Homo sapiens: one gene and its partners. The protein of the gene in region 3 binds, or shares a complex with, the protein of the main gene of each other region. Each region holds a gene or a part of one and is shown on either strand. Other genes may lie near its edges.

Region 1 (7,035 bases), on a different chromosome or scaffold from region 3:
AGTTTAAAAAAAAAAGAACAAAACAAAAGTATGTATACTCTTGTACATCAAGAAAAGAAAGATTTTATTCCAAGTGCAATAAGAAGGCATCAGAAAGTTCTGGGTAAGACAGTCGCATGTATTTTATTCTGAAAGGGTCACTAGTCCATCTGTATAAGGAACGATTGTATAAAGAACAGTGAGAAGCCACGGAAGACAGTAGAGGCTTGGACTAGAATGTGCTAGAGGTAGAGGTAGTGAAAGGTAGGTAAAGATGACCTGCCTGCTCCATTCTCTCTGCCATTCCTCTGTGCCACCAGCCCCAACACTAAGGGGACTATTCCAGTTATTTAAAAACTTGAGGGGTAGCTATACGAAAACAGCACATAATGCTAGGGCTATTGTGTACAGCCGTGCCTTGTACAAGGGTGGCTGGCCAAGCAAGTAAGTGGGGCTGAAATCTAGCCTGTGTTCTGTCTTACATATTGTGTGCACTTGCCATGGAACCTATCTATGTAAGGGAAGGGAATTCCAATTTTTTTTTTTTTTTTTTGAGACGGAGTCTCCCTTTGTTGCCCAGGCTGGAGTGCAGTGGCGCAATCTTGGCTCACTGAAACCTCCGCCTCCCTGGGTTCAATCGATTCTCCTGCCTCCACCTCCCTAGTAGCTGGGATTACAGGCGCGAGCCACCACACCCGGCTAATTTTTTGTATTTTTATTTTTATTTTTGAGACAGAGTCTCGCTCTGTTGCCAGGCTGGAGTGCAGTGGCGCAATCTCGGCTCACTGCAACCTCCGCCTCCCAGGTTCAAGTGATTCTTCTGCCTCAGCCTCCCAAGTAGCTGGGACTACAGGCACGTGCCACCATGCCTGGCTAGTTTTCTGTATTTTTAGTAGAGACAGGGTTTCACCATATTGGCCAGGATGATCTTGATCTCCTGATCTTCTGATCCACCAGCCTTGGCCTCCCAAAGTGCTGGGATTCAGGCGTGAGCCACCGTGCCCGGCCAATTTTTTGTATTTTTAGTAGAGACGGAGTTTCACCATATTGGCCAGGCTGGTCTCGAATTCCTGGCCTCACGTGATCTGCCCTCCTCGGCCTCCCAAAAGTGCTGGGATTATAGGGATGAGCCACCGTTCCCAGATAGAATTACAATTTTCTAATTCACATACAAGTGACACGTGTTAGCAGGGGCCTTGAACAATGCCCTACGTCATTGACTATGTAAGAGTATTAGGCTCAACAAAGGTGATTAAAATGTTATTAATCATTTAACTGTTCAAGAAATCTCTTTTCTGGATTAGTTTTAAAGAAATAATTGAGACTGAAGTTTTAAAGAAATAATTGAGACTGAATATTGATTTTAAAATCCCTGATGAAACAAAATGGTGTATCATTCATTGCCTTCCATCTCAACTCCATTTTTTTTTTTTTTTTTTTTTTGAGACAGGGTCTCACTCTGTCACCTAGGCTGAAGTGCAGTGGCACGATCTCGGCTCACTGCAACCTCTGCCTCCTGGGTTCAGGCCATTCTCCTGCCTCACTAGTAGCTGGGACTACAGGCATGCACCACCACACCAGGCTAATTTTTTTGTATTTTTAGTAGAAACGGGGTTTCCCCATGTTGTCCAGGCTGGTCTCAAGCTCCTGACCTCAGGTGATCCACCCACCTCAGCCTCTCAAAGTGCTAGGAGTACAGGCGTGAGCCACCACGCTTGGCCTCAACTCTAATTTTATGAGATCCCAAGACTATTTTGTGGCTTTCACTACCTAATCTACTTAATTAATAATTAGAATAGCAAAGATGTATGTATAAATAAAGCATTGAAGTCTTTTCAAAATTTAAGTGACACTTAATTAGCATTTTACAACATTAAAATTTTATCTTCAAGAGAATCAGCATGAATCAGATGAGAAAGGTTTTGCCAGAGGAACCTGTGGAAGGTTTAAAACGAGTCAAAGGAGTTCTATTACGAACGTTAGGATAAAAAGTGGAGACTTGGCTGGGCGCAGTGGCTCACGCCTGTAATCTCAGGCACTTTGGGAGGCCAAGGCAGGTGGGTCACCTGAGGTCAGGAGTTCGAGACCAGCCTGGCCAACATGGTGAGATCCCATCTCTACTAAAAATACAAAAATTAGCTGGGTGTGGTGGTGGATGCCTGTAATCCCAGCTACTTGGGAGGCTGAGGCAAGAGGATCTGGGAGGCGAGCCAAGATTGTGCCATTGCACTCCAGCCTGGGCGACAAGAGCAAAACTCTTTCTCAAAAAAAAAAAAAAAAAAAAAAGGTGGCGACACATTGACTCATGCCTGTAATCGCAGCACTTCAGGAGGCCAAGGTGGGAGGACAGCTTGAGGCTAGAAGTTCAAGACCAGCTTGGGCAACACAGCAAGATCCTGTGTCAAAAACAAACAAACAAAAAAGCCAGGCATGGTGGTGTGTGCTTGTTGTCCTAGCTACTGGGGAGGCTGAGGCAGAAGGACTGCTTGAGCCCAGAAGTTTGAGGCTGCAGTGAGCTATGATGAAGCCACTGTCCTCCAGCCTGGGTGATAGAGCAAGACCTTGTCTCTAAAACAAAAAAAGAAAAAATAAAGTGGAGACATTTAAGATAATTACTCCATCAGTAATAGTGGCAAATAGGGGCTCAAATTTAGTTCGCTGTCCTGCCTGTATTCTTTTTCCTCCTTCTGGTCAGAGAAGACAGGCTAAAAAAAAAATGCAATAGCTAAAATTAAAGAAAAAGTACTAAATAGATGAGGGTATGAAGAATGGCAAAAGGAAAGATACCAAGAACACTTACTGTTTTCTTTGTTCAAAATAACACATCAAATATCCAAGAAGCCAGTATTTCCAGCTCTCAGACAGCTCCTCAGGTCTACAGAGGATAAACTAAGCTACTCACTGTTTCTGTCATGCACCAGGGTCAGGCTGCAATGTCTTTCCCTTATATGACTATTATCTCAGTATCCTTCCTTTCTCCCATCTCAGCTCATCCAAATTCTACCAGTATGTTCAAGATTCAGTCAAATGCTATACATTTCAAGCATACGTTCCAGTTCCCTTTCAGGTGAAAACAATCTTTTCTTTTCCTGGACTCAGAAAATACTTAACCTGTGCCTTTCTTATGGCACTTGATACTTCTGTAGCTGGTTCTCAACACAGGCTATATATTATATTAAAGCACTGCAAGTGATTAAAAAAACAAAAATAAACCCCAGCCCTACCTCAGACCAATTACACCATAATCTCTGGGAGTGGAACCCTGTAGTGTTTTTAAAAAGTCTGCCAGGTCATTAAAATGGACAGCCCAGAGGTGAGAGCCCCTACCTTAGCTATGCCTTACTGATACTACTCGAGTTATCTTTATATCTGTAAATGGAGTGACATACATGTATAATTAAATTTTTAGGTCCAGAATTTTTTAAAAATTAGATTTTTGTATCCTCTGTGAACATAGTAAATGTGAACTAATAGTTTATCCAAGAATCAAATATTCCCATTCCCTAGGTAGTATTTTCAGTTTAGCTTAAAACATGGGATTTAGCTATATCTACAATTATGTAAAATCTGTAGATGCTCCCATTTAGAGACAGAATATTTTTAAAAAAGAACATGGTGAGTGTTTTGGTTTTTGGCTATAAACAATGCACACAGCTTACCTCTCTAACATCCACCATCCACCCTCCATCAACAAACAACAAGACGTTATACATTTTCTCCTTCACATCAGCAGTTAGGGCATCCAAATGCCCTTTCCAAATACCAAAATCCATCTGCAAAACAAACACAAGGCAGACATATAATGGATAAAACCCAATAAATAATGTATTTGGAAAATACAGACAGGAACATACATATAGAACATCATTCTAAAGAGTTGATGTTTCAGTCTGCCAAGTACAAAAATAAGTATCAACAGACTGCAGTTAAGTAAAACGCTAAAATGTTAACTTTGTAAATGAACGCTCATGTCACCTGAAGGCATTTTTCATGTTTGGTTAATTACCTACAGAAAAGTAACTAAACAGATTGCATCTTCCAAAGCAGGACATTAACAGGGAGATTACCTGTTATGATCGAAAGATAGTTGCTGAAGAAACGATCTCTTTAAATATACAACACACATTTATAAGATGCAGTAGGCACATCCTAGATCCATATTTAACTTACTTCATATTTCTTTTCTTTGTGTTCATGAGCCACTTTCTCAGTAAAAGTTGGTTGAGGTATCAAAGCAGGTTTTTGTGGAACTGAATTCATATGCTTAAACCACTCATTAAAGGTTTCATGGGCTTCCTAAAATGTGAAATAAAAAAACCAAAATATAAAATAACAAAAGTTTTCACTTTTATCGTTTCACCAACATTTTTAACATTTGATTCTTAGAAATAATTTTGCAGCATCAAGAAATAAAACTGTTCAATATATATTTTTTTCCCTCCAAAAATTCATATCATGAATAAATGTTTTGTCAAGTGACAAACAAGGTATATATATTGTGTTTTCTGGCATATTCTCCAATCTGAGCACCCTGATCGTATATGTATCTTGACATTCATCGCTCTGTAACATATGCATGTGTACTTGTCTTCTTAACTAGCCTATTAGTTTTTAGAGGGCAAGGATAGGGTGCTATCCACAGATTTGGCCCTACTACCTAACCCACTGTAATTACATAATTATTTATTGAATAAAATTTTTTTTTTGTTTTTGAGACAGGACCTTGCTCTGTCACCCAGACTGGAGTACATGATCTAATAAAGACAAGGCATGATCTCTGCTCACTGCAGCCTCAACTCCCTGGGCTCATGCGATCCTCCCACCTCAGCCTCTGAAGAAGCTGGGACTACAAGTACATGCTACCATGCCTGGCTAATTTTGTTTTATTTTTTTGTAGAGATGCAGGGGTCTCACTGTGTTGCTCAGGCCAGTCTTGAACTCCCAGGCTCAAGCAATGCTTCTGCCTTGGCATCCCGAAGTGTTGGGATTATAGGCGTGAGTCACCGCATCTAGCCTTGAATGAATTTTGAATGAGTATGCTGCTATTTTAGTCATAACAAACCTAGAGCATCTTGCTTTTTCTCAGTTATTGAAAAAAGCAGAAATTTAAAGCTGAGACATGCATCACAAAATCTTAAGAAAACATAACTTCCAGACATCATAGACACTATCTACCATGTGAGATGATCTTGGTTGGTTAGCATTGATTAGAGAATCATGCTAATGAAGATAAGGTCATGAAGTCAGTCCCCTTGTGGATGAGTCAGCACTATAGTCACAAGAGAGGTAAGATGAACCAACACTACTTCTAGAAAAAAGTTCAAACTCTGAGAGTGAATCCGAAAAATCATCATGAAGTAGGCACATCTGTGGCTTTCTTTACAGTCTCACCAAATAAGCTCTGATGCACAAATGTTCTCGGATAGCATTATCATCTTCAGCAGGAAGTGGACTTTCCATTCCTTGTTCCTCGCACTGATTATAGATTTCTGCTATAGAATCCTGAGGAATTTTCACAAATACTTCTTTTGCAGCTTCGTGCTTTTTTGATGCTGTGAAAAAAGATACACAATTTTGAATGCCTACGGACTTCTCTGTAATGGTTTCTAAAGGAGTCAAATCACTGGTTTACCAATTTTACAGTGACCTGTAACTATTTCAGGGCCCAAGGCACTCTGTTAAAGGTCTTGGTGATCTTTCTACCTGATAGACTGGCTTTTTCGTATCTCAATGTGATACTATCACAAAAGGATACATCAAATGCAGTTACTTTTACATACTTTTATGTCTTAAAGCAATTCATTTTTCAAAGTCGGATAGCCTTGAGATTATTTGCAAAATTGATTAGGACAATGAAAATTCACCATTAAAATATATTTTGTTTCATAATACCAGGTTTGATAGATAAAGAGTGGCTGGTTTTCTCCTCCCTATGGAAGGATCAAAAACAAAAAGCAACCCCCCACCCCAAATTCAAAAATACACGAATTTGAACAAAAACGTTTTAAAAAAGAATAAAAAATCTGGGTGTGGTGGTTCACGCCTATAATCCCAGCACTTCAGGAGGCTGAGGTGGGAGGATTGCTTCAGGCCAGGAGTTCGAGACCCGCCTAGGCAACATAGTGAGACCCCATCTCTAGAAAAAATTTTTTAAAAATTAGGTGGGTGTGGTGGTGGGTGCCTGTAGTCCCAGCTACTTGGGAGGCTGAGGTAGGAAGAAGAATGGAGCCCAGGAGTTTGAAGCTGCATAAAAATATACTATACCCAAGAATTTTCTCATAATTGCATTGCCTTGTTTCAGTGCTTCTGCCCTCTGCGCTGGGTCAAATACCAACCAGTCAATTACATCAATTTTTAAACGATCCTCCTATTTATTAAAGGGGAAAAAAAGAAAAAGGAATATCAGAGTTTTTTTTTTAAAGATATTCTACAAATTAGTAGAATTAACTTACACCTGTACTTCCAGTAAACATCATTTTCTCTCAAGTTATACAAAATTATGAAAGCATCTAACTTTCCTTAGTGTATTTTCATATTTAACAGCTCTCTATTAAATTATAGAAAATACTGCTGGGCATGCTGGCTCACACCCGTAATCCCAGCACTTTGGGAAGCCCAGGCGAGCGGATCTCTTGAGCTCATGAGTTCGAGACCAGCCTGGACAACATGGCAAAACCCCTTCTCTACAAAGAATACAAAAAATTAGCCAGGCATGGTGGCACATGCCTGTAATCCCAGCTACTCGGGAGACTGAGGGAGGGTGGCTTGAGCCTAGAAGGCGAAGGTTGCAGTAAGCAGAGATAGCGCCACTGCACTCCAGCCTTGGTAACAGAGCTAGACCTTGTTGTCTCAAGAAAATAAAAATAAAAATAAATTATAGAAAATATTAATCTGGAATTATATATTGTATGCCTTACCAACTTAACCACGTGATTCCTTTAAATGTTACTCTAAAATAGTTTTCTTAGATATAACTTTCTATTCCTTTCTGAAAATATGAGTAAGCAAGCTACATAAGTTAGTGATTAATCAAGTATTTAAAATAACCTGATGAGC
Region 2 (4,372 bases), on a different chromosome or scaffold from region 3:
CTGGTGTTGATAAAATCTCCACTGCTCAGAAATATGTTCTAGCAAGACGGCGCTTGGTGAAGGTGATCAACAATCGAGCTAAACTGCTTTCCCTTTGTTCTTGTATCCTTTATGAAATCATGCACTTGAATGATGACCTTGAAATATAGGAACTGTTCACTTATTCTCATATTATTTGGGCACCAAAACCAGGTGGAAGGAGATAAACTTAATTTTTTCCCAGTAAATGCCTAATGTATTTCCAAATCATAGTTTTTGTTCTTATCTTTTAGAGTAGCTGGTAATACTGATAAAATACATGGGCACTTTCTGTTAGGGAAGAAGGTAGGGACATGAGACTGCTGGCACAGGACCCCAAGGTCCCCACCTCTTTCCTCAGCACACCTTGCTGCTTCCTCTTGAGGAGCCTTCAGTGAGACCCTGTCTGTTAGACTGAGGCTGTGGGTACCTCATTAAGTGAGTGCAGTCTGTCCTTTTTTCTTCTCCTCCGAAACTGGTGTGTAAAACATATTTGATGAGATTATGTTCCTTTAATCTGAGCTCTGGTATAGTTATCATAGAGACCTGCCTATTTATTCTTTGGCGCCATCTGGAGTACTACTTGTTACATTGCATGCCCACGGATTCTCAAGATTCCTTATTTGCCTCGAGAACCTTGTTTAAAAGCAGAAGACTGCAAGGTAAACTTTCTGCTAAAAATTAATGAACCATAAATACCTATTTGTGCCTTGAAAAGCTAGTACCAGTTTTTTTTTATTTTTGTTTCCAGATTACTTAGAGTGAATTGGGTGAATCAAGAGCTGTTTAGTCACTAGACGTAGCTATTTCTTGCATTTTACTTTCTGTTCACGGGACATTGTGCTGAGCATAAGAATATTCTAGAGCCTGCTCATCAGCTGTTCCTTAGCTTCTTGCTGCAGTTAGGGGGCTGATCCAGCTCTAGAAGAATGGAGGAGGTCTGCTATTATGCTGATTCTTATTGCTGGAGTGGGCCTCTGTGACTGATGGCCATATATTGGATCCCTTAGGTGGAAGGAAATAGAGAAAAGCTGAGAACCCTGGTCTGGACCAGTGAAATGCTTTCTAGGGGCTTCCATTTGCTAAAAGTTGAAAATTGAGTTCCCAATCTTGAGCCGTGTTTTTCATGGTGCTATTGTTATTATTCATTGTCATCAGGTTCCTCCACTGTGTGGTAGATAGGTACTTGCACAGCCGGTATGACTCTGTTTTTTTATCTCTAGATTCCTTCGCCTCAGAAACCAATCTAGATTTTAGAAGTGGGCTGGCTATAGTGAGCCAACATGATTTAGACCAGGTAAGGTTCTATTCTCATATTCTTTTATTTTTCTTCATTAAAGTAAAAGGGCTGGGTGTGATGGTACACATCTGTAATCCCAGCATTTTGGGAGGCCGAGACGGGAGGATTGCTTGAGCCCAGGAGTTTGAGAGCAGTCTGGGCAACATAGTGAGACCCCGTCTCTTAAAAAAAAAAATTGGCATACTGTGGTGGCATGCACCTGTAGTCACAGCTACCTGGGAGGCTGAGGTGGGAGAATCACCTGAGCCTGGGAGACTGAGGCTGCAGTGAGCTGTGATTGCACCACTGCACTCCAGCCTGGGCAACAGAGCAAGACCTTGTCTCCAATAAATGAATGAAAGAGTGAAGCAAGACCTTGTCTCCAATAAATAAATAAATAAATGAATGAATGTAAGTAAGTAAGTAAAAAGGAAAGCCTGGTATGTTAATAAGATTATGATTTTCAGGGTTGCTTACAGACACCTGGTTTGAACTCTAGCTTGACCATTTTAACAGCTATATGACTTTGAACAACTTACTTAACTTCCGAGCCTCAATTGCTTCATCTAAGAAATAGGAGGATTCAACCTCAGAGGGTTTTGTCAGAATTAAGTGAGGTTTCATGTATGTGAGGCTGCTAGTGTTGTACCTAGAACATGGTAAGCATTCCGTGATTGGTAGGCATTATGATCTGGAAACTCCTGATGTCTTTTGATTAGCTTTGTAGAACTTTTTAGGTACAAAGTATCACTCAGCACTTATTTTTCAGGAAATAATTTAATGGTGAGATTGAGAGCAGCCAATACAAATCCCGCCGTCATAGACCATAGTACACAACACTGTGCTCTTACTAACCTGTTGATCAGTAGTGTTAGAATGAATGAAGAGTATGCCAAAAACAATTACAATGAAAACCTCATATTAAACTAATAGCAAAGTTATGTTTCTAACAAAGCAGGTATCAGGGTGTGTGATGTTAGGGAAAATGAATTACAGCTAGATCCTCTGCTAGCCATCTGAATGTCCTTAGCCATGATTTGATAAAGCCTCTGCTCCTCCCAAATCCCTCTTTTTGCTATTTTTCTTAAAACAAGGTTGGGAATGAAAGGTGCAGTTACAGCAGCCTCCAAAGCACAGCTTGCTGGATATCATGAATACCACGCTCCCATCCCAATCCAGACTACATTCGCCCCTTAGTGACTTTATAAAAGGAATTCGTTTTGTGGCTAGGCTTGTTTAGGAGAACTAGTGTTAATTGAGGCCATGTGCAAAATTAGCCAAAGAAGATTATTCAGAAGTTTGTTTGTTTGTTTGTTTTGTCTGAGAGACAAGGTCTCACTCCATTACCCAGGCTGGCATGCAGTGGTGTGACCACAGTTCACTGCAGCCTCAACCCCCTGGGCTCAAGTGATTCTCCCGCCTCAGCATCCTGAGTAGCTAGGACAACAAAAATAAATATATTTTGAAGTAATAACTGTTACTATTTCATTTAGACTGCTTTGTGAAAAAGCTAGAAAAAAATGCAGGATTAATAAATAATCTCACACTCTGTGTTGTGATTTTAATGCAAAACTGAAAACAGGTAGATTGATCTAATATTGTACTTAATTTTAGTCTTTTAGTATAACATCAAAAAGATCCATCTGAAACTACATATGCATTCTAGAATATATATGAATTCTAAAGCATATAACAGGTGTATCCCCACATTAATATTTTTTGAAAACAAAAGCATGCAAGTGGGTTTTTAAAAATTGCAAAATGAAGTAAAAAGTAAAAGCTTCTTTCCCACCTACCCTCCTGTCCTCCCTCCCTCCCTTCCTTCCCTGCATTCTCCTTCCCTCCCTCCCCCGCCAGTCTTACTGACTTCTTGTATGGCCCTTCAGGAAATGTTTTTGTGTGTATGTTAGTATATCAGCATCAGCATCAACATTCATTGCTATTTAAAGCAGGTTTTTAAATTTATACAAGAAAAGAAAGCAGGAAAAACATGAGAATTAAACCAAAAAATTCTAAGGTAGAAAATGTGAATGTTTAGTTAATTTAGTAACACATTACAAAAATTCAAAAGTATTTACATTGAAAGAACCACATTACAAAAATTCTAAAGTGTTTTAAATTGGAAGACTTAGAATAAAAGAAATATTTGAGACAACAATTTTAACAAAATGTCTTTTGTGTCACCGCTAGCTTCAGGCTGATGCAATCAACGCTTTTGGAGAATCACTACAAAAGAAACTTCTGGACATTGAAGGATTATATTCAAAAGTTCGATCTCGATATAGTTTCATACAGGCTCTTGTCAGACGTATCCGTGGCCTCTTGAGGATATCAAGGAACTGAGAGCCCGTGCTTATGCTCTTCTATGAGAGAGATGAATTGGGGAGAATTGTCTCCATTTTATAGATTAGTTTCTTTCTAAATTATGACCAAAAATATTTTGCTATTTCTTTCTTTGTATATGGACATCTTTTCTGTAAACTTCTTCCCCTAGTTCCATCCTCACTAGTAAAAAATAAATACTTTTTAAAAAAACAAAACAAATGTATGGTTAATCTTTTGATCTTTTATCTTTTGATCAGCATTATCAGGAATCTAACAAATAAACCTTCAACAGTGGTGATTTTCCCATAGAGATATTATTCTGAATGCCAGATTAAAGGCATAGTCTGAAAATTCTAATTTTTTCACCCTTTGTAGCTACATTACACTATTAACAATATTCAGGGTTACTAAAATATAGCCATGCTCTTATAGAATAGTGTACTCAATACTGTGAAAATGTCTGAAAAAGTCAAGCTTTTTCCTAAAATTATTTAGGTTTTCCTTTTTTTTGTTTTTTTCTTTTCTGCACGTAAGTTGACAATACAATTGTCCCTTGGTATCTGGTGATTACTGGTTCTAGGGCTCCCACGGATACCAAAACCTATGTTTTGGCATGCATGTTCCTTATATAAAATGGCATTGTGTTTGCATATAATATAGATACATCTTCTTGTATACTTTAAATCATTTCTAGATTACTTACAATACCTAATATAATATGAATTCTATATAAATAGTGGTTAATACTAC
Region 3 (6,995 bases):
AGAGAGAAACTTCAAGGGTTAACCTATGAAGCTTCCAAGTTGTAATTCAATACAAGGAAATCTGCTTAGGGTTCTCATGTTGACATCACAGTATAACAGTAGCTTACCTCATTTGAGAATGTGCGAACATCAAAAAAAGCAATAATGGAACCATATTCACTGGACATCATGCACGCAGAGAGTGTGAGGTTATCACAGCTCAAGGCCAGGTGATGGATTGGGAATTTCATAGGAACTAGCAAGCCTTGGACTTTATCAACTATGAAAACAAAAAAATACAAAGCAGAAAACGGTATGTTCTAAGCATAAAGCCACAACCTCTATCCAGTTCGATGTGAAAAAATTTTTGCATCTACATAAACACACATACACCCCAATACCTAGTTATACAGATAAATCTTAACTTTCTTAAAGATATATAATGATGGATTAAGTATCCCTGGAATTCTTCCTCATACAATCTGGGGAAACTAACTGTGGCTGCTGCCCTTGTTGAAAATATTTTTGCAACAATGCTCTAAATAGTACACCTTGCCAATAGTTTGGATCATACTGTTGTGCCAACTGAAAACCCATGCCAATAAAACCCTTCACCCAGAGAGCCAGAGCCCAAGTTCAACTGAGCAAAAATAAAAGCATGGCATAATGGTTAAGTTCTTCCCTGTTGAGCTGAGAGGAACAACTCATGTAAGGAGAAATACAAAGGACCAAGGAGAAAACCTAGAAAGGCTTCCATTAATCTTCTTGGGAGTCAACCTTCAAACTGACAGCAGTGTTCATTTTAGTATTAGAATGACTTCTTGGGAAGGAAACACAAGAGCATGCCACCATACTCCTCTCTCTACTTTGCAACATAAACCAGGGAACTTACCTATTTTGTTGGGATCATCTCCGGGTTTATTTTGAATAAGAAGATTTTTAGTAGGAAAAATCTGCAAGCCACTGGCTCCACCAGCGAAGACCAGACCATATTTGTTGGACACAGCAAGCAGACTCGAGCGTTCCTTGGGCAATTCCTCAGGGGAGTCAAAGATTCTCACCTTCTTTAGCGCTCTAAACTGAAAATCCTGTTGTGAAGAATCAAAACGAGATCAATTCAATAAAGAAAGAAATTAAAACATGTTATATTCAGTAGACCCAATTTCAGTACAACAAAAATATGTATTACTGAGACCAAGGTCTGTCTCAATTGTCTTTTTTTCTTTTTTGAGATGGAGTCTCGCTCTGTCGTCCAGGCTGGAGTGCAGTGCAGCGATCTTGGCTCACTGCAACCTCTGCCTCCCAGGTTCAAGCGATTCTCCTGCTTCAGACTCCCAAGTAGCTGGGATTACAGGCACCCGCCACCATGGCCATCTAATTTTTGTATTTTTAGTAGACACAGGGTTTCATTATGTTGGCCAGGCTAGTCTCGAACTCCGGACCTCAAGTGATCCATCCACCTCAGCCTCCCAAAGTGCAAGCTCACAGGCATGAGCCACCACACTCGGCCCTCATTTTTTTCTGATATGGAACACTTCATGAATTTGTCTGTCATCCATGTAAAGGGGCCATAATAGTCTTCTCTGCATGATCCCAATTTTATATGTGCTGCCAAAGGGAGTGCGAGATTACCATCTTCTAAGTCTGTGGTTCTATTAATAAAACCTTTTTTTCTTCTACCCCAGCATATCTGAGGAATATGACACAACCCCATTAGGTGGCTCACCACAGGTGGTGATTCTCAAAAAATAATCACTATTCTAGGACAGCACGGTAGCTCACGCCTATAATCCCAGCACTTTGGGAGCCAGAGGAGGGCGGATCACGTTAGGTCAGGAGTTCGAGACCAGCCTGGCCAACATCGTGAAACCCAGTCTCTACCAAATGATATAAAAAATTAGTGGGGCGTGGTGGCAGGCGCCTGTAATACCAGCTACTAGGGAGGTTGAAGCAGGAGAATCGCTTGAGCCGGGGAGGTGGAGGTTGCAGGGAGCCGAGATCATGCCACTGCACTCCAGCTTGGGTGACAGAGCAAGACTCTGTCTCAAAAAAAAAAAAAAATCACTATTCTAAACATGGTATTACTATGCCCTAAATGCATTTTAGTGATTTATTGTTCACACAGATGCCTAAAATCTTCCTGCAACTTACTTCTTTTCACTATTTAAAACAGATGTAGCCCGTCTGTTGTACCCTCATTCTGTCAGAACCCATATAAGAACTATTAAACACACCATCCTGAAGTTATCCCTGGGGGACTCCCACGTTGCTATCACTGGGACCACTTGGCCCTCCCTTTAGGTTCCTGACTTTAGGCTGATATACCGAGGTCAAAATAGTCTTCCTAGTCCAATCAACTAAAGGTTCTGCAGGATGGATGACCTTCCCTGACTCTACGTTAGGCAAGCCCGTATCACCTTACAGAAGTACTGGGAGAGCAAAGGTCTTAAATGATGCTGGCTTTCAGCCCCGCGTCAAATGTGACTTTAGGGAAATTACTTTCCGAGCCTCAACTTACTCCTCTACGTTAACGACTACTTCGTAGGGCTGCCGCGATGACTACCACAGTGCCTGGCACACAGTCAACACTCAATAAACAGCAGTTATTGCCACTATTGTGACCGCCCCAGGAAGTAGCTAGGGTAACTCAACAGCCGTGCACGAGACCAGGATGGGACTGGGAAACTGCATTCGGTGGGGCTATCACGCCAGCGGCGCGGCAGACGCGCTGGTGAGAGCTGTGAACGCGGTAAACTGTTCAAGCAGGAGGCGGGACAGCCAGCACCGCGCTTCGCCTTTCAGCTGGGCTCCAAGGCAACGCCAGGACTAAAGAAGGGAGGGAGGCCCCGGTTAGTCTCTGACCTTCATCTCCCGCTCGGGAATCATGGCATCCATCTCGTCTCCCATCGCGCCGCCCTCAGTGTGTCGAAGCAGCCAACGCTGCCTCCCACGGCCTTGCCCACGGAACCCAGGCCGCTCGACAGCAAACTTCCTCCCCTCAGCGCCAGCGGCGCGCAGTTGACCTCGCATTTCCGGCGCGCTTTGGTGACGTCAAGCTTGGTCAGAGGAAGCCGCGGAACCTAGCGAAGCCGCGCGTTCTTCCGGCCGCCGCTCCCCATTGGCCAGCTCGGGCTGAGTAGTGGCGTGGCCGTGAGGTCCCTGCGCCTGCGCCCTGGATGGTCCTGGTGCCGCTCCCGCCTTCGCAGCCAGCGCGGGCTTACCTAGTGTTAAGTCTCTCTTCTTGGGTGGCCCACGCCTAAGCGACCTATGCTTCTTGTTCTTCTGAAATCTTACAGTTCCCCTTAGATGTAGGTTGGCTATTGGTAGCTTCCGATTCAGATAAGTTTGGAACTTGACAGATGTTTTCGGGGGGCTGCTTTAGAGAGAGGCTTTGGACTATGCAAGGGGAGGAAGGGAGGTTCAGAAAAACGGGGTCGGGGGGTCGGCAGGGACGACTCTTAAAGTGTGGAAGGTGGAAGGCTGGGAGGGGAGATTAAAGGGCACCGAAGACCAGCTTTGTTTGCTCCTATCAAGGTGATCCTTTCCAGAGCAAGAGCCATATCCATGTCTAGTCGCACGAGTTTGTGCCAAGTCCTTTGCAAAAACCTTCAGATGTGGGATCTCATGTAATCTTGAAGACATCTTAGTCGTCCTAGGGGTTATTTATTTAATTGATGAGACGCGGGTGGCTCATGCCTATAATCCCAGCACTTGGGAGGCGGAGACAGGAGGATTGCTTGAGACCAGGAGTTTGAGACCAGCCTCGGCAACATGGCGAGACCCCGTCTCTATAAAAAACAAAACAAAACCACAAAAATTAGCCAGCAGTGATGGCATGCGTATGTAGTCTCAGCTACTCGGGAGGCTGAGGTGGGAGAATTGCCTGAGCCCAGGAGGTTGAGGCTACAGGGAGCTGTGATTGCACCATTGCACTCCAGCCTGGGTGACAGAGCCAGGCCCTGTCTCAAAAAGTAAATAAAAGGCCGGGCGCGGTGGCTCACGCCTGTAATCCCAGCACTTTGCGAGGCCGAGGCGGGCGGATCACGAGGTCAGGAGATGGAGACCATCCTGGCTAACACGGTGAAACCCCGACTCTACTAAAAATACAAAAAATTAGCCGGGCGCGGTGGCGGGCACCTGTAGTCCCAGCTACTCGGGAGGCTGAGGCAGGAGAATGGCGTGAACCCGGGAGGCGGAGGTTGCAGTGAGCAGAGACAGCGCCACTGCAGTCTGGCCTGGGCGAAAGAGCGAGACTCCGTCTCAAAAAAAAAAAAAAAAAAAAAGTAAATAAAAATAGGCTGGGAGCAGTGGCTCACGCCTGTAACCACAGTACTTTGGGAGGCCGAGGTGGGTGGAACACCTGAGGTCAGGAGCTCGAGACCAGCCTGGCCAACATGGTGAAACCCCGTCTCTGCTAAAAATACAACAATTAGCCGGGTGTGGTGGCGGACGCCTGTGTTCCCAGCTATACAGGAGGCTGAGGCAGGAGAATCGCATGAACACAAAAGGTGGAGGTTGCAGTGAGCTAAGATTGTGCCACTGCACTCCAGCCTGGGTGACAGAGTGAGACTCTGTCTCAGAAAAAAAAAAAAAAAAAAAAAAAAATATATATATATATATATATATACACACACACACACACATATATATATACACACACACACATATATATATATATACACACACACACATACACATACATAATAATAATTGATGAGGTAAGGGAGGCACAGAGAAGTTGAGAAAATTCTCCAATAGCCCTCAGTCAGAAAGTGGTGGTGACAGGATTAGAATTGAGATCGTCTGGATAAGGCTGACTGATGGTATTAAAGTCCTTCATAGAATACATTTCTGTAGTGAATTATAAATGCTCTAGGACAGAGGTTCTTTTTTTTTTTTGAGACGGAGTCTCACTCTGTCACTCATGCTGGAGTGCAGTGGCGCGATCTCGGCTCACTGCAAGCTCTGCCTCCCGGGTTCACAGCATTCTCCTGCCTCAGCTTCCCAAGTAGCTGGGACTACAGGCGGCCGCCACCACGCCCGGCTAATTTTTTGTATTTTTAGTAGAGACGGGGTTTCACCGTGTTAGCCAGGATGGTCTCCATCTCCTGACCTCGTGATCCGCCCACCTCAGCCTCCCAAAGTGCTGGGATTACAGGCGTGAGCCACCGCGCCCGGCCGACAGAGGTTCTTAACTTGGACCTCATGGGTTGGCTCCAGGGGGGTCGGATTGTGCCATTTACTGTTTGGCTTGCAGCACATTGCTTATTCAAGCCTACTTTTCAGTTGTGAAACAAGGATGACATAATAGAACCTGTCTCTTGCAGGGAGGTGGTTAGGATAAGTGAATTTCAGCTGTCTCAGACAAAAGGCACAGGACATGCTCATTTAATCTCTTACTATATTAGCTAGTTCGCAATTTGCTGAGCCCAGAACCAGCCCCAAAATACACCAATCAAGACGTTGGTAAGTTTGTCTGGTTTATTTGCAGGCTGTAGAGATGATATCCCAGTCCACGCACACTCCCATGCACACGCACACACATACTTCATCCACCTGAATTTGCCCGACAAACCCTCCTCTGAGTCATAGGGACAAAGCCATACTTGGCAGTCCTCACGTTACTGGTTACATTAGATTTGGTCTTTCAGAAAGAAGATGGTTGAAGTCCCAAGAAGCTGAGCCCTTAGCCAGAGAAGTAAGAGTCCTAGAACCAAGAGCCACAACCTGAAATAGATGCAGACTGCCCCCGCCCTCCTTCCAGGGACAACTCTTGAGACCCTCTCCTCCCAGGAGTTGAGTCTCAAGAAATGAAGGGACTGATGGGGTTTCCCAGGACACACGAGCCCCCACCCCCATTCAATGAGAAAACCCTCTCTTCTGCCATTTCCAGAAGCTGGGGCCACACCTGCTTGCTCTCCTCCCTTAAGGAGAATTCCTGCAGTCTTGTAGAACTGTGGAACTTACTGAAATAAGCCTGACTGGTTCTGCCTTCCTCTCTGAGTGAGGAACAGGGACACTGAATATGATGGGTAGTGAAGGAAGGCTTTATCTTCCTCAAAGGTCCCAGCCTGTCCCAGAGAGGAGAGGCAGTGAGGAGGGGTGAGGACATCTAATGATCTTGGGGAAAAAAAAAACAAAAAACAGGGCAGGGTGGGGGTAGAAGTAGGATTTTCCATTTACAGGGAGGAATGTTTTGCTGGGGTTTAAACTTCAACTAGGCCTGTGTGCATTTGAAGCAGATCCTTGAGCTCAAGATCAGCCAGTCATGGCCAAATAACCTCATTCCTGAACTGGTTGAAACCAGTGGGTTAACCCAACCTGGCCATTTCCTCATGCCTTACCTGTTTTCCTCCCTCAATCTGCTATCAGAGGTGACTAAGGAGCCGCAGGGAACCCACGTTGGCTCCAACCACCAAGACCTCCCAGTCCTGTCCACTTAAGGTGTTGCAAAGGCTCTGCCAAGACTCTCACCCAGTCTTGGGCCCATCTAGGCCCCCAGGACTGCAGGGAAGTCACCCCATACCTCCCCCTTCCTAACATTTATCTCATTGTCATTGTCTGGGTCTCACTTTCCTATTGGACTCTAAGTTCCATGAATCTGTCCATTTCATTATTGGATTCTTAACTGTTGGCCTACAGCAAGTGCTTAATAAATATGTTCAGTGAATAACTGTCTCAGTCCTGAGCAGGTAGGGTAAGAGACTTCAGAACACAGGTGGGGTTAAGGCTGAACACCCTGATCAGCCAAGATGGGGCTGACTTTGACATCTTCCTGCATGAATTACAAGAGGCAGCTTCAGAGGCCTGGTCTTTGCCCTAAGCCTGATGCTGACTTGAAGGCATGGGAGAGGGCGAATCCTGGACCAGGGTCTTCAGAGCAAGTGAAACCCTCTCCAAGTGTTGACCTTGGAGGCTGTCTCTTCCCAGCCCTTCCCTGTTCTCATAACTAACTAAGGCAGCCCACACTGGAAATGAGGTGTAGGCAGGGTCCCTGAACATCTGGGCCCCAGTCC
Region 4 (7,035 bases), on a different chromosome or scaffold from region 3:
GAGGTCAGGAGTTCGAGACCAGCCTGACCAACATGGTGAAACCGTGTCTCTACTAAAAATACAAAATTAGCTGGGCATGATGGCACATGCCTATAATCCCAGCTACTTGGGAGGCTGAGGCAGGAGAATAGCTTGAACCCAGGAGGTGGAGGGTGCAGTGAGCTGAGATCACACCATTGCACTCCAGCCTGGGCAACAAGAGCAAAACTGCATCTCAAAAAAAAATGTAAATAAAAGAATGGCTACTCCATAGACAGAGTAGCTCCGAGGGCTGCTGGTTGCCCATTTTTATGGTTATTTCTTGATGATATGCTAAACAGGGGTGGATTATTCATGCCCCCACTTTTTAGACTCCTGATGTAACTTCCTGATGTTGCCATGGCATTTGTAAACTGTCATGGCGTTGATGGGAGTGTAGCAGTGAGGACAACTGGAGGTCACCCTTGTCGCCATTTTGGTTTTGGTGGGTTTTGGCTTGCTCCTTTATTGCAACCTGTTTTATCAGCAAGGTCTTTATGACCTGTATTTTGTGCTGACCTCCTATCTCATCCTGTGACTTAGAATGCCTTAACTGTCTGGGAATGCATCCCAGTAGGTTTCAGTCTTGTTTTACCCAACTCCTATTCAAGATGGAGTTGTTCTGGTTCACATGCCTCTGACAGTTTGTCAGTTGATTAATGGAATAGGAAAAAGGGAACAGCATAAGAGGGAAGAGGAATACCTGTGGGAGTTAATGTTTTATGTAGGGTGGTTGGGCAAGAGCCAGGGGTAAGCTGACATTTGAGCAGAAGAAAGGATATCTGGGGAATGAGTATTTCAGGTGGAGCCTTCCAAGAAAAAGGAATAAAAAGTGCAAAGAACCCTGAAACAGGAGCCTGTTGTGTTCAAAGAGTGGAAAGGAGCCAGGAGTCTGCAGCTGAGTGAACAAAGGGTAGAATAATAAGAAAGAGATAGTTGAGGGCCAGATCAGGGCTTTGTTGGTTATTTTAAGCTTTGGCTTTTGCTCTGAGTAAGATGAGAAGAAGCTGTGGAAGGTTAAAGTGGAGGAATGACGTGATCTAAGATCTGGGCTTCTAAAGGATTGCTTTGACTGCTGTCTTGAGAATAGAGCGTGGTGGGGGAAAGGGTAGGTGCAGGGAGACCAGTTAGGAGGCTGGTGCCACAATTCACACATGATGGTGGCTTAGATCAGGGTGGTAGTGACAGAGGCAGTGAGAAATGTTGTGATTGTGGATATGTTTTCAAGGTGAATTTGTTAGAATTACTGTTGCATTGGATGGGGAGTATACAGAAAGAAAAGAGTCACAGGTGAGCCCTAGATTTTTGGCTTGAGCAATTGGAAGTTAGGGAGATGTCATTAATTGCGATGGAAAAACGTATAGGTGAAGCAGGTACTTTTGTTTTCTTCAGGTTCAGTGAGTCCAGGAGTTCTGTTTTGGACAGGTGTAATCTGAGATGCCTGATAGATATCCAAGTGAGTGTTGAGACAGTAGTCAGGAGTTGAGTGGAGAAGTTGGGCTAAAGATACAGATTGTGAAATTGTTGGCATTAGATCGTGCTTAAAGCTGTTCTACTGAATGAGATCACCTAGAAAGTGAGAATAAATTAGGATTTTTCACCTTCTGCACTATTATTGTCAGCTAAGTCTTCATTGTGGAAGGCTGTCCTGTATGCTATAGGGTGTTAAGCAGCATTCCTGGCTTCTACCCTCTGCATAGCAATAGCACATCTATACCGCCACTTCTACCCTAGTTACAATAACCAACAATATCTCTAGATATTGCTTAATATCCTGGTGAATGAGGAAGAATCGCCCCCAGTTGAGAGCCACTTGAGTAGAGCAGTCTGGGACTGAACCCTGGGGCACACCAACATTTAGAAAAATGACGAACCAACAAAGGAGCCCAAGAAGGAGTAACTGAAGTGAGAGTTGAACAAAGAACGTGGCATCCCAGAAGCTAAGGGAAATGTTTCAAGGAGGAGGAGAGTGAAAACCTGTCAGTGTTGCATTTAAGCCAGGCAAGATGAGAAACGAAAATTGGCCTTTGGATCATGGAGGTCATTGATGACCTGGTCAGGAATTGCTGCAGTAGTCGTACAAAAGCCTCAGTGGAGTGGGTTCAAGAGGGAAAGGGAGGAGAGGAATTGTGAGTATAGAATAGCCCTTCCAAGGTGTATTGCTATAAGGGAAGCAGAGAAATCACATGGTAACCAGAGAGCAAGGGAGGAACAGAGAAAATATAATAATATATCTATGTGCAGTTGGGAATGACCTAGTAGATGCAGTTGAGAGCAATCACTAGAGGAAAGGAATTTGGGGAACTGAGAAGGTAGAGTGTTAGGATAATTGGATATTGTTTATTCATTTGTTTGTTTGTTTTTTTTTAGAGTCAGAGTTTCACTCTGTCACCCAGGCTGGAGTAAAATAGCACAGTCATGGCCTACTGCAGCCCGAACTCCTAGGCTCAATCGATCCTCCCATCTCAGCCTCCCAAGTGGCTGAGATTACAGGCGGGCATCACCATGCCTGGCTAATTTTTTTATTTTGTAGAGATAGGGTTTTGCTGTGTTGCCCAGGCTGATCTCGTACTCCTGGGCTGAAGAAATCCTCCTGTCTTGGCCTCCCAAAATGCTGGGATCATAGGCATGAGCTATTGTACCTGGCCCTGATACTGAAATCATTAAGAATTATGGTGAGAGTAGTGTGGGAGAGAGTGACAGTGGGCCAGGAGCTAAAATCAACTGCAGTGAGCATGGGTAGCAGGTGGTATCTGATTCCATGAGCTTCAGAGCTGAGTGATTCGGGTAGCAGAGGAGGAACAGTGGCCTAGAATGCCAGTGGGGAACAAGGACATCTGTATGTTTTCCTTGAGGCCCCACCCCAAAGGGCATGGTAGAGAAAACTCTGGGGTCACTGTCCTCACGGGAGATCCAGGATCCAACTTTAACCGTAAGGCAGGAAAGCGAAGGAATTATTCAGAGATGAGGTTGAGGATCCAGAAAATTGTGCTGATGCCGTGAGTTACCAGAAGCAAAGTAGCTCTGGGAAATCATCAGCGCTGAAAAGGTACTTACATCCTTGGGAGTAGATAAGATGTGCCTTGGGAGAAAGTGTACAGTGAGAGAAGATGGTCCAGGATCAAGGTTTGAGGAAATCTAGCATATAGGGGTCAGGTCAAGGAGAAGGGGAAGAAATGGACAGGAATGTGGGAGGAAAACTGGGAGAGGGTAGTATCATAGGATTCATGAGAAGAGACTGTTTAAAAAGGAAGGCAAGGTCACATATGTGGAATGCTGCTAAGAGATCAAGTAAGAGGGCCAGGCATGGTGGCTAACACCTGTAATCATGTGGAATGCTGCTAAGAGTCAAGTAAGAGGGCCAGGTGTGGTGGCTCACACCTGTAATCCCAGCACTTTGGGAGGCCGAGGCAGGTAGCACTTTGGGAGGCTTGAGGCCAGGAGTTCAAGATCAGCCTGGCCAACATGGTGAAACCCCGTCTCTACTAAAAAATACAAAAATTAGCCAGGTGTGGTGGTGCACACCTGTAGTCCCAGCTGCTGAGGAGGTTGAGGTGGGAGGATTGCCTGAGCCCAGGAGTTCGAGGCTGTAGTGAGCTATGATTGCACCACTGCACCCCAGCCTGACAGAGTGAGACCCTGTCTCAAAAAAAAAACAAACAAACAAACAAAAATTATCAGATGGTACATGCTCCTTAGAGCCCTCAATCTCTCGAACTAGAGCACGTTCCAGGATCACATGGCCTTCCTTGTAACACTGGCTGTCTTCGGTGGCAAACTCGTAGATCCATCCCAGTTTGCTGCTGCAGTTTTTCAGCTCACATGTTGGACCATGTGGTGGCCAGTGAGCATGACCCAATCTAGAGCTTCATTGTACTGCAGGTTCACTACCTTGTTAAAAAGAAATGCTCTGCCAGTGGCGCCTGTGAACCAAGTGGAGATGAATTCTGAGCGGTTGGTCAGGATTGTATCACAGTTTGCATAAGAAAATGGACAGGTACCACGAATATGATCAAGGAAAATTCTGCCCATTTTTATGGCTGAAGTTCTAAAAACCCTGTGCAGCAGTGAGATCTGTGGCTGCCAGTGGCTCCTTGCTCCTCAGCTGGGATTAATAAACAAGCTCCTTTTGGGGAGGGTGGGGGAAAAAAGAAAAAAATAAATAAACAAGCTCCTTTTGAGGAGTAATAATGAAAGTTAGAATAGCTTAGTATAGAAACTAACCCTGATATGTTCAATTTGCGAAGGTATTTTTATATTAAAATATTTATTTTTGTAATATTTTTGCACATACATGTAAGCGCATGTATAAAATTGCTATTCTGTGTGTGTGTGTGTATATGTGTGCGCATGCATGCTATTGCAGGTTAAGAAGTAATAGAAACAGGAAATAACCGCAATTATTAAGGTCAGTTTTGTTTGATGCTGTAGTATATATGGAGGCCACATTCCACTACAAGCAATGGCCGGGGTATGGTGTTAATTTTTATTATAGTAGAGTTAATTGCATAAAATATTGTCCTAAATAAATGGCCTATCAAGTTTGGAAATGTCTCTATGTAACAGAATCACAGTGAAATTTGGATTTTGTTATGCTGTTTTTTATAAATGTACATAATGTGATTTGGCATGCAAAAGTGGTCCAAATCTGTTTATCCAAAATTTTCAAATTTGGTGAGTTCACTTGGACACTGTTCTCATATATTTCAGTAGAACAGTCAGTGAGAAAAGCATAAACTTTTCAAACAAATGTCTCTTTTTCAACAGGAAGACCTCTGGAGATACATTGGAGCTGATGGAGGAGTCACTGGACATAAATCTGTTGAATAATGCCATTCGCCTAAAATTCCAAAATTGCAGTGTTTTACCTGGAGGGGTTTATGTCTCTGAGACTCAGAATCGTGTGATAATCTTGATGTTAACCAATCAAACAGTGCACAGGTTACTTTTACCACACCCCTCCCGGATGTATAGGAGTGTAAGTTGGCTAAGTGCAATATCTTTTATTTCCCAAATTACTCTGGGTGTCACAAATGTAGTGCTGGAGCGATGTCTTTTGGAATTGAAGGAAATTTGGATTCTCGTTATCCCTCACCAAGCATACTTTGATAGCTACCGCTTAAAATGATCAGGCATACATTTTAAGTTGAGAATTAGTTTTCATTAAGAAGAATAGCTTTCTTAAACTTGACAGTTTTTTACTTTAAAAACTTTTTTAGCAATAGAGAGGAACTGAGCAAAATTCTGGTTATTTTGATTTAATAGATTTTTCTTTTTAATTACTCAACAGGAGTTGGTAGTTGACAGTCAGATGCAGTCAATATTCACTGACATTGGAAAAGTTGATTTCACAGATCCTTGCAACTATCAGTTAATTCCAGCAGTACCTGGAATATCTCCTAATTCCACCGCCTCTACAGCCTGGCTCAGCAGTGATGGGGAGGCCCTGTTTGCCTTACCATGTGCTTCTGGGGGAATCTTTGTTCTTAAGCTACCTCCTTATGACATACCTGGTAAGAATGGGAACTGAGCATGGATTTAACTTTAAACAAGGAATGTTAACATTGAAACAGTTCAACCTCGTCATCCAATGCAGGGATTGCATCTCTACTGCCCCGGAACTGGTCATTCATTATTGCTTGCCTAATGAGTCCCTAATGCTTTACTTTTATACAGTGGATAAGGAACTATAAAGCATATTGGAGCACGGAAAAACAAATAGACAAGTATAAGACAGCCTATTCTAAATCTTGTAGTAGAGATGGGTTGCCTAATTGTCTGCCCTGAGATGGAGGCATTATAACATTATAATTAAATTAATTGAAACAAAGACATTAAATACCCTGCACCAAGTTGCCACTGTGTCTTGCCTGGATTATTGTATTAGCTTTCTATATATCTCCCCAGATCTGTCTTAACCCTCTTCAGACACTTCTCAGGTGGACTGATATATTTAAAACCCAAGGGCCAGGCGCTGTGGCTCACGTCTATAATCCCAGCACTGTGGGAGGCCAAGGCAGGTGGGTCACCTGAGGTTGGGAGTTGGAGATCAACCTGACCAACATGGAGAAACCCCGTCTCTACTAAAAATACAAAATTAGCTGGGCATGGTGGCCCATGCCTGTAATCCCAGCTACTCGGGAGGCTGAGGCAAGAGAATCGCTTGAACCCAAGAGGTGGAGGTTGCGATAAGCCAAGATCGTGCCATTGCACTCCAGCCTGGGCAACAAGAGCGAAACTCCATCTCAAAAAGAAAAACCCAAGTTGGGTCATGTCACTGCACTGTGTAAAGCCGTCCTTTATGTAGTGCAGTGACATGACACAACTTTTCTTTTATTCTTTTTTTTTTTTTGAGATGGGATTTCTCTCTGTCGCCCAGGCTGGAGTACAGTGGCATGATCTCAGCTCACTGCAATCTCCACCTCCTGGGTTCAAGCGATTCTCCTGCATCAGTCTCCTGAGCAGCTGGGATTACAGGCATTTGCCACCATACCCAGCTAATTTTTGTATTTTTAGTAGAGACAGGGTTTCACCATGTTAGCCAGGCTGGTCTCGAACTCCTGACCTTGTGATCTGCCCACCTCAGCCTCCCAAAGTGTTGGGATTACAGGCTTGAGCCACCGCACCTGGCCTTTCTTTCTTTCTTTTGAGACAGAGTCTCACTGTCACCCAGGCTGGAATGCAGTGGTGCCATCTTGGCTCACTGCAACCTCCGCCCCCCCCAGGTTCAAGTGATTCTCATGTCTCAGCCTCCCAAGTAGCTGGAATTACAGGTGTCCACCACCACACCTGGCTAATTTTTGAATTTTTAGTAGAGATGGGGTTTTGCCACATTGACTAGGCTGGTCTCGAACTCCTGACCTCAAGTGATCCGCCTGCCTCAGCTTCCCAAAGTGCTGGGATTACAGGTGTGAGCCACGGCACCTGGCCAACATGACCCAAGGTGGGATTCAAATATATCATGTTATGCTGAATAAACCCAGAGTCCTTACACTGGCCTAGAGTGACCCACTGCTG

What was found.
Region 1: NUP214 (region 3) and NUP107 share a complex: the UniProt entries of both Homo sapiens proteins name them as parts of the nuclear pore complex.
Region 2: NUP214 (region 3) and NUP205 share a complex: the UniProt entries of both Homo sapiens proteins name them as parts of the nuclear pore complex.
Region 4: NUP214 (region 3) and NUP160 share a complex: the UniProt entries of both Homo sapiens proteins name them as parts of the nuclear pore complex.

What each region holds. Positions count from the first base shown.
Region 1 is NC_000012.12:68,731,948-68,738,982, reverse strand, and holds part of NUP107 (nuclear pore complex protein Nup107), read right to left. Parts: intron 6,347-7,035; coding exon 6,244-6,346; intron 5,532-6,243; coding exon 5,371-5,531; intron 4,276-5,370; coding exon 4,150-4,275; intron 3,753-4,149; coding exon 3,639-3,752; intron 1-3,638. UniProt on the Homo sapiens protein: Plays a role in the nuclear pore complex (NPC) assembly and/or maintenance. Required for the assembly of peripheral proteins into the NPC. May anchor NUP62 to the NPC. Involved in nephrogenesis.
Region 2 is NC_000007.14:135,644,917-135,649,288, forward strand, and holds the end of NUP205 (nuclear pore complex protein Nup205), read left to right. Parts: coding exon 1-102; intron 103-551; coding exon 552-680; intron 681-1,241; coding exon 1,242-1,315; intron 1,316-3,487; coding exon 3,488-3,640; 3' UTR 3,641-3,837; downstream 3,838-4,372. UniProt on the Homo sapiens protein: Plays a role in the nuclear pore complex (NPC) assembly and/or maintenance. May anchor NUP62 and other nucleoporins, but not NUP153 and TPR, to the NPC.
Region 3 is NC_000009.12:131,121,596-131,128,590, reverse strand, and holds the start of NUP214 (nuclear pore complex protein Nup214), read right to left. Parts: upstream 3,006-6,995; 5' UTR 2,887-3,005; coding exon 2,842-2,886; intron 1,068-2,841; coding exon 872-1,067; intron 260-871; coding exon 108-259; intron 1-107. UniProt on the Homo sapiens protein: Part of the nuclear pore complex. Has a critical role in nucleocytoplasmic transport.
Region 4 is NC_000011.10:47,838,339-47,845,373, reverse strand, and holds part of NUP160 (nuclear pore complex protein Nup160), read left to right. Parts: intron 1-3,686; exon of another isoform or gene 3,687-4,130; intron 4,131-4,785; coding exon 4,786-4,996; coding exon of another isoform or gene 4,997-5,146; exon of another isoform or gene 5,147-5,308; coding exon 5,309-5,531; exon of another isoform or gene 5,532-5,873; intron 5,874-7,035. UniProt on the Homo sapiens protein: Functions as a component of the nuclear pore complex (NPC). Involved in poly(A)+ RNA transport.